2 linked regions of the Homo sapiens genome follow. The protein of the gene in region 2 interacts with the protein of the main gene of each other region in a pairwise test. Each region holds a gene or a part of one and is shown on either strand. Other genes may lie near its edges.

Region 1 (3,659 bases), on a different chromosome or scaffold from region 2:
GCTGTCTCCAGAAGGGGACAGGCAGTCCGCGGTCTCTGGACAATCAACTCAAGGTACGCCCACTGCAAGGCCTCCCTCCCACCGCGGCCCCTGCCTGGCCACCTGGCCTCTCTGCACCAGGGTGACAAGGGGTCCTCGTCTGCCCCCCAATGCTCCAGGGCCAGTCCTAAGGAGCTGAGGGTCTGAGGACGCAGGGAGGGTGGAGGTGTCCTGAGGCTGATGGACAGTGACCGCCACTGGCCCCCAACATGACCACACGTGGGTGCTGAACTCGGGGCGCCGTGCCCACCGGCATGGTCCTCCCGAGCTCCGACAGCATTACCTCACCCGGCCCCATCTGTTGCCCCGGTCCAGCCCTGATGGCGCGCGCCTGGTCTGTCTGATTCCCCTAGCCGCCACCCCACGTTTCTGTACCGGGTCTCTGCAGTGTTAAACGGACGTGTAAATAGTGGTAAATAGTGAAAGCCTGTCCTTCCCTAAATGTAAAGCCATCTGTCCGGCGTAAGGACGACACCGTCAGCTGTCCGACTCGCACACATTTAATAAACTGAGCTCTTGCATTGCCTGCCGCCATCACCTCTTCCTCAAAATGGGCTGTGGGCGGGTAGGTTCATCGCTGTCTATGTGCTGCCACAGAATTGCTGAGACCCCCCAGGTTAGATCCCTGGAAGCAGAGCCAGAAAGCAGAAACTGGGGGCACAGGGTTTGTGGGCACCCCACCCAGATGGGCCGGGGAGGCACTGGCTGAGGCCAGGAGTCTCCCCCTGGTCCCAAGGGAGGGCAGGCTCCAGGGGGTGCACAGCACCCCAGACAGGGGGTCCAACCTGGGCATTGGTACCTGGGCCAGTTATTATGGCAGGCCCCAGTGTGGGGCAGGAGGCACCCATGAGCCACTAGGAGCTGTGGCTGGTGCAACAGCTGGGATGGGGCAGCCACAGCAGCCACTACCGGGGAGAGTCAATGGTGGACAGGGGCTGCGGGAGCTGGGACGGCCCCACGTCAAAGCCACTTCAGGGAGCACAGCCCTGGCCCAGCTGGGGGGACAAGGAAAGCTATGACTGCAAGCAGCACAGAAGTGCAGGGTGGGAAGGGATGGCAGGAGCCGGCCCCCTCCCCACCTTCCACCCTGGGACACTGCCGGGACCTCCCTCGGCCAGGTGAGCAGCTTCAGAAGCATGACCAGTGAGAAGTCCCTAGGGCCCAGGCCGGGCTAGCCAAGTCCCAGTTTCTGGATGAGGCGCCTCCCAGGCTGTGTGTGGCAGGCCCCCTTTCTTCAGGGAATAAGAAACATCTTCCACATTCAAGAAACAAAGCTGGCTGTGGGTCTGGAGAGAGGGTGAGGCAGCCCCAGGTCTCTGGGTCAGGCGGACGGTCCCTGCATGCAGTGCCCGGCAGGACTGAGCAGGGTTCCCGGGGTCGCCGGTACCCATCCCTCCCCAGCTTCCGGGGCCCCGGGACGGAGCCGCTCACAGAGGCACCATTCAGACGGCCAGACACACACGAAAGCTTTATGTGCAGGGCCCAGCCTCTGGGCCGCCTTGCCCAGGTTTCCACTCAAGTTGCTATTTAGGATGAAAAGCCTTTGGCAAGACCCTCCGCCGCACTAACGCCCCCTCCCCCAGGGCCAGAACCCGCAGGGAAGCAGGCCCAGGACCTGCTGCAGCTGGCAGGGTGGCTATGAGACTCAGGACACCCTGGGCTCCTGGCCAGTGACTCACAGCGGTCCTCCAGCAAGGGCAGTGGCTGGGAGACACCCGTGCCGTGGAGCTAGGCCCAGCCTGGCTGGGTCTCAGGGCTGCTTCTCTTGGGTGACCCCAGCGGCCCAGGGTCGTTGTGAAGATCAACGTGGCTTGTGGGAGGAGCCCGGGGCCCAGAAGGAAGTGGGGTCAGGGGCTCAGGCTGGCCCTCGGGCTGCTCTGACATTGGGTGGGCACTCGCTGGATGGAATCACAGTTAACACCTCGATCCCAACACCTGGACTCAGAAGTGGACAGGCGAGTGCCTGCCCCGGGAGAGGAAGGAGGTGGCACCTGCTCCCAGGGGCCCCACTGCAGAGCACGGCCACTGTGAGCTGACGACAGAATCACAGTACAGCAATAATGTCCCTATCCTCTTCCAGAACCCCAGTGGGGCCCTCAGGTCACGCAGGACGGAGCCAGCTGGGTGGGTCCCACCAACTCGGCATGAATGAGACGACGGATGAACCGCAGCCCCAGCATCAGGAGGGGCGCCTGTGTCAACACCCACGTGGGCTGGGACCCCGTGAATGCCAGTCTGGGGCCGACGGACCCCCAGGGAAAGCCTGGGTGCAGGCCACCTTGTGCGCTGCCCAAGCCTGCAGGCCCCGAGAGGTCAGCCTGAGGAGGCAGCCTCGGCTGCCGGTAATGCTGCCTGCTTCATCTGGGCCACCTCCCGCTCCAGGTCCTCGCCGGCTCGCTGCAGGAGCTCACACCTCTGCCTCAGCACGTTGCCCGCCTGCTGCAGCCGCTGGTTGGCAGCCACGTAGGCCCGGCTTTGCTGGTAGAGCTGCTCTCCCGGGGCCTCCGCATCCTCCATCATCCTGAAGGGAACTGGGGGGTCTGAGACAGGACACAGCAGCATCACTGCCTGCTGACCACCCCATCCTCCTGGGCACCCCTCACTACTGCCCCCAAAGGGCAGGGTTCCCTGCAGTCCCCGAGTGAGCTTGCCAGCCGGGGTCTTCTTAACATGACGGATGCAGCCAGGTGTGGTGGCTCACGCCTGTAATCCAGCACTTTGGGAGGCCGAGGCGGGAGGAACACTTGAGCCCAAGAGTTAGAGACCAGCCTGGACAACATAGTGACACCCCCATCTCTACCAAAAAATACAAATACAAAAATTAGCTGGGCGTGGTAGCACGCATCTGTGGTCCCTACTTCTCTGGAGGCAGAGGCAGGAGGATCGCTTGAGACTGGGAGGCCGAGGCTGCAATAAGCTATGATCGTGCCACGGTACTCCAGCCTGGGTGACAGAATGAGACCCTGTCTCAAAAATAAATAAAAACAAAAATCAAGTAATGGAGGCTTCCTCGTCCATCAGCTGGGAGAGGCACAGTGGCTGGGTGGCAGGAGGGGCTTCCAGCTCTAGGCTACCCGCCTTAGCAAAGCGTGTGACCAGGGGGATCGGGTCACAGAAAGAGCTCAAGCCTCGCCAGCAGTGGCCCTCCTGGGGGCGGGGCTTCCATTCCTGCAAAAGCCGTGGCACCCACCGGGATGGACTCCACTGAGCTGGCCTGGCTCTCATTCCTGCTGTCTCTGGAAGCCAGAGACGCAACAAGCCCGCCACCGAAAACCTCTCCAGGGGCCGTGCAACCTCCTGGAGCACACACTTAGGGAGGCAGGGGTGGCGAAGGTGAGAGGTGGGCATTGACGTCCTGGTGACTCCCACATTCAGCAGAAACTACGTATGGCTCCCTGCTCCCCCACGTATGCAAGCCCAGTGCAGCAGGGCTGAAGCAGCACCGACTTCAGGGTCACTCAGAGAAGCGTCAGGGGCCCCTCGGCTCTGGCCTGCCCCTCGGCAGTGTGGTCTCCCACGGACGAAGGCTCCACGTGCCGCACGGGTCTGGGCTGATCAAATCACCTCTGTCATCACCTGCTTTAGCAACAGGGTGGGAAAGGCCGGGCAGTGCCTGGATG
Region 2 (3,644 bases):
AGGCCAAGAGAACGGCCTGAGGAAATAAACAAAGAGCAGACCCCCTAGGCCACTTACCATATCCAGCCACTGCTGGGCACTGGTCATAGATGTACTTGGAGCAGATCTCACGTACCACACTGGCATCCACCTCCTGCAGGGTGAGGCAGAGGGCATACTGGCTAACGGGCACCTGGCCACCACCTCAGCCAGTCAGCATCATCCAACTAGCAGAGATCTCCCACAGGCAGCATGCAGCTGTCCCCAGCCCAAAAGAGGAAAGGCAGAAGGGATCCCTGCTATAGACCTCCATGGGCCCCGCCCATCTCCACAGCCATCAGCACCTATGCCCTGCCCTCCCACTATGCTACCCCTGCAGGTGACAGCTGCCTAGGACACCAGGGATGCCTATAGGAGCAGGCTGCGCTATGCCAGGCCCCAACCCTACACCTCCCAGGTGTCTGCCAGGCCAAGACTCCAGAACCTCTCCCAGGGGTCCATGTTACCGCAATCCGGCTTTCCCATTCAGCCAGGGGGATGCGGCGGCCATAGGTCAGGAGGCTGCGTCCGATGTCCTCACACACAGGAGTAGTGCCTTTAAGGGTGAGAGAAGGCTCAGAGGTCCACCCAGCCCAATCCTGGACCCACAGGTACACAAACAATCTCCAGCCTCAGGTTGACAAGGACCTCCCTGACCTCATGCTGACTCAGATCACAGCCCTCTCTTCTATGGTCACCTATTATGGCAGTGATGGGCTGTGGACCTGTCTCACACCTGCCTGCATCTCCAAGGGTGGGGTGATGGGGCATGGCGTGGTCTTCAAAGTTTTCCTTTCTAACCTTGGTTAGTTAGGAGCAGTGGCCACCTTGGTGCTGTCGCTGGCAAGATGTACTCTACCCCTCCCCGCTGAGCTGTAGGACTCACCATCTAGATGAGATACCAGGGCATTTCTGAGGATGTTTTTGCCCCGGGCCACCTCACTCTCCGTGGCACTGGTACACAGGCGCATCCTAAAGTGGGGGGGTGGGTGGTATTCATTCTGAGCCAGTGTGTCATCTCTCAGCCTCCCACTGTGCTGGTTAAAGCCGCCATCCCACCTAGGAATACCAGGCTGCCACTTACCACTGCCCTTGCAGGACGAACATCATGTCATCGATTTTCATTCGGTCACAGACAAAGTGTGCACCCAGCAAGCCCGTCTCTGCATAGCAGATGCTGAAGGTCTGGAAACTCTGGCATAGCTTGTTGGCCACAGCACCTGAAGCCAGTGGGCTGGACAGGTGCTGCCAGGGGGATAGGTGGTCAGCACCCACCCTCTTGTCTTCAACGCACACTGTGACCCCCACGCACAGGAGCACACAGCCCCAGCACCCTCTCTTCCCTGAAGGCGAGGTCCCATGCTCGCGCTGGCACTCACCACGCCACCACCATAAGTGCAGTCATAGTGGCCGATGATGGCATTGGCCACTTGCAAGGCCACATTGTCCGGGCTGGCCCAGCCAGGACCCTCTACTGCAATGGCCACGTGGGCAAAAGGTAGAGCATCATCACGGTGGCGGATCTGAAACAGTACATGACAAGGCTGAGGAACAGCCAGACTGCCAGGGGAACAGAAAAGGTGGCAGGTGTGGGTAGAGGGTGTATGTGTGTGAACATGTGTGCCTGTGATGCAGCAGCCACAGAACCCCTTCCCAACTGCTGAGGTATCTCTGGAGTCACCAGGATAACCATGCACATGGGGGTCCTCCCACAGGCCCCCAGCTGAGCACTACTCCTGCCCAAAAGGCAGCATACCTCACTGCCAGTGAAGCGGCATGGAGTAAGAGTGGGCACAGCGTCCTCTGCATATGTCCATGGGATGCCACCGAGGTGCTTCTGGGCGAGGTCTAACAGTTGCTGGTGCTCCACTCCTGCTGAGACAGACAGTGGCATTACTGACCAGCCAGGGCCCAAGGCACAGGGTGGGGCGATTCACAGACAGGCAGAGGACCCCCATGTCCTGTCTTAGTGGGAGAAACCAGGAGTATGTGACATTAGAACAGGGTGAGGAAAGAAGGTCCTCCTCAGACAGACCCTGCCTTGTGGACAGGACAGGCACCTCAGGGCCAAATAGCTCCCATGGCCTCAGTCCCAGGAGAGCAAAAGCGTTCAGAGTTTCAAAATGGGCTGCCATGTGATCCAAGTGTGGGTTCTCACTTGAGAAGATGCATTCCACCTACATCAAGGACAAGACTGGTACTCCTGGGCACAAAGCCACCTGGCCTGCCTTTTCCCTCTAGCTCTCCCTCAAGTATTTCTGGCTGCTGGCCCTGCAGGGGGTGGCAAGTGAGGGGGCAGAAAGAGGAGCTATTACAGGGCTGTGATTAGCTCTTGGGTCCCCTGAGAGCTGGGGACATTTGCAAATAATGTTACAAACGTATACCCTAGGACTCCTTGGATCTTGCCTCCTCACCTCCACAAGAGGAGGGCTCTGTGGTGCCACCAGTTGCATTGGCCTTTTTTTTTTTTTTTGAGACGGAGTCTCGCTCTGTTGCCCAGGCTGGAGCACAGTGGTGCAATCTCAGCTAACTGCAAGCTCCACCTCCCGGGTCCACGCCATTCTCCTGCCTCAGCCTCCCGAGTAGCTGGGACTATAGGCGCCCGCCACCACGCCTGGCTAATTTTTTTGTATTTTCAGTAGAGACGGGGTTTCACTGTGTTAGCCAGGATGGTCTCGAGCTCCTGATCTTGTGATCCGCCCGCCTCGGCCTCCCAAAGTGCTGGGATTACAGGCGTGAGCCACCGCGCCCGGCCTGCGTTGGCCTTTCATTCCTTCCTTCCATGAGCTCAAGCCCTGCTAGTCTGACACACACGTCAGATTGCTCTTGCCCCCAGGTTCCCCAGCTCCAAAGCCCCTGGTCATGCTCTTCCTATTGGTCTTTTCTGCACACTCAGCCGCCAAGGTCATAAGCTGGGAAGCATGTTTGTTTTTTTTTTTTTTTTTGAGATGGAGTTTCACTCTGTTGTGCAGGCCGGAGTGCAGTGGTACAATCTCAGCTCGCTGCAACCTCCGTCCCCCGGGTTCAAGGGATTCTCCTGCCTCAGCCTTCCAAGTAGCTGGGATTATAGGCAACTGCCACCAAGCCTGGCTAATTTTTGTATTTTTACCAGAGACGGGGTTTTGTCACGTTGGCTGGGCTGGTCTCGAACTCCTTACCTCAGGTGATTCACCCACCTCGGCCTTCCAAAGTGCTAGGATTACAGGCGTGAGCCACCACGACCAGCCAAGATGGGAAGCACCTTGACCTCAGTTCCTTACCCATGTCCAGACCCCAACCAGGTTCCATCTATAAAACCACCTGGAGTCCATCTACTGCTCCCCCTTGCTCCTGCCATCTCCTGCCCAGTCCCTGCCACAGCCCCTCTCTAGCCAGCCTACCTGCACTGTGACCCCACACAGCAGCAGAGCAAACCTTAGACCATGACACTGCTCTTCCCCTGCGCTCAGCTCCCCACACCCCACCTAAATAACACTCACCACCTTTCAGGCTTCTGTTCAAACTACAGGTGCTTTAAAAAGCCCCTCCCCCAAACTCCAACTCTGAGTCCCCAGTGAAATCTTCCCCACCCTTCTGTGCCTTCCTTTCAAGGCACTTCTTGGTTTGTTATCAGGCATGCATCAACA

Evidence for each region. Proteins that work in one complex are often made in the same cells at the same time.
Region 1: the proteins of UQCRC1 (region 2) and C19orf25 interact in binary tests that used the Homo sapiens proteins (3 or more experiments, as listed by UniProt).

Annotation. Positions count from the first base shown.
Region 1 is NC_000019.10:1,472,680-1,476,338, forward strand, and holds the end of C19orf25 (UPF0449 protein C19orf25), read right to left. Parts: intron 2,580-3,659; coding exon 2,353-2,579; 3' UTR 522-2,352; downstream 1-521.
Region 2 is NC_000003.12:48,599,578-48,603,221, forward strand, and holds part of UQCRC1 (cytochrome b-c1 complex subunit 1, mitochondrial precursor), read right to left. Parts: intron 1,891-3,644; coding exon 1,775-1,890; intron 1,542-1,774; coding exon 1,398-1,541; intron 1,264-1,397; coding exon 1,103-1,263; intron 991-1,102; coding exon 905-990; intron 575-904; coding exon 486-574; intron 134-485; coding exon 58-133; intron 1-57. UniProt on the Homo sapiens protein: Component of the ubiquinol-cytochrome c oxidoreductase, a multisubunit transmembrane complex that is part of the mitochondrial electron transport chain which drives oxidative phosphorylation.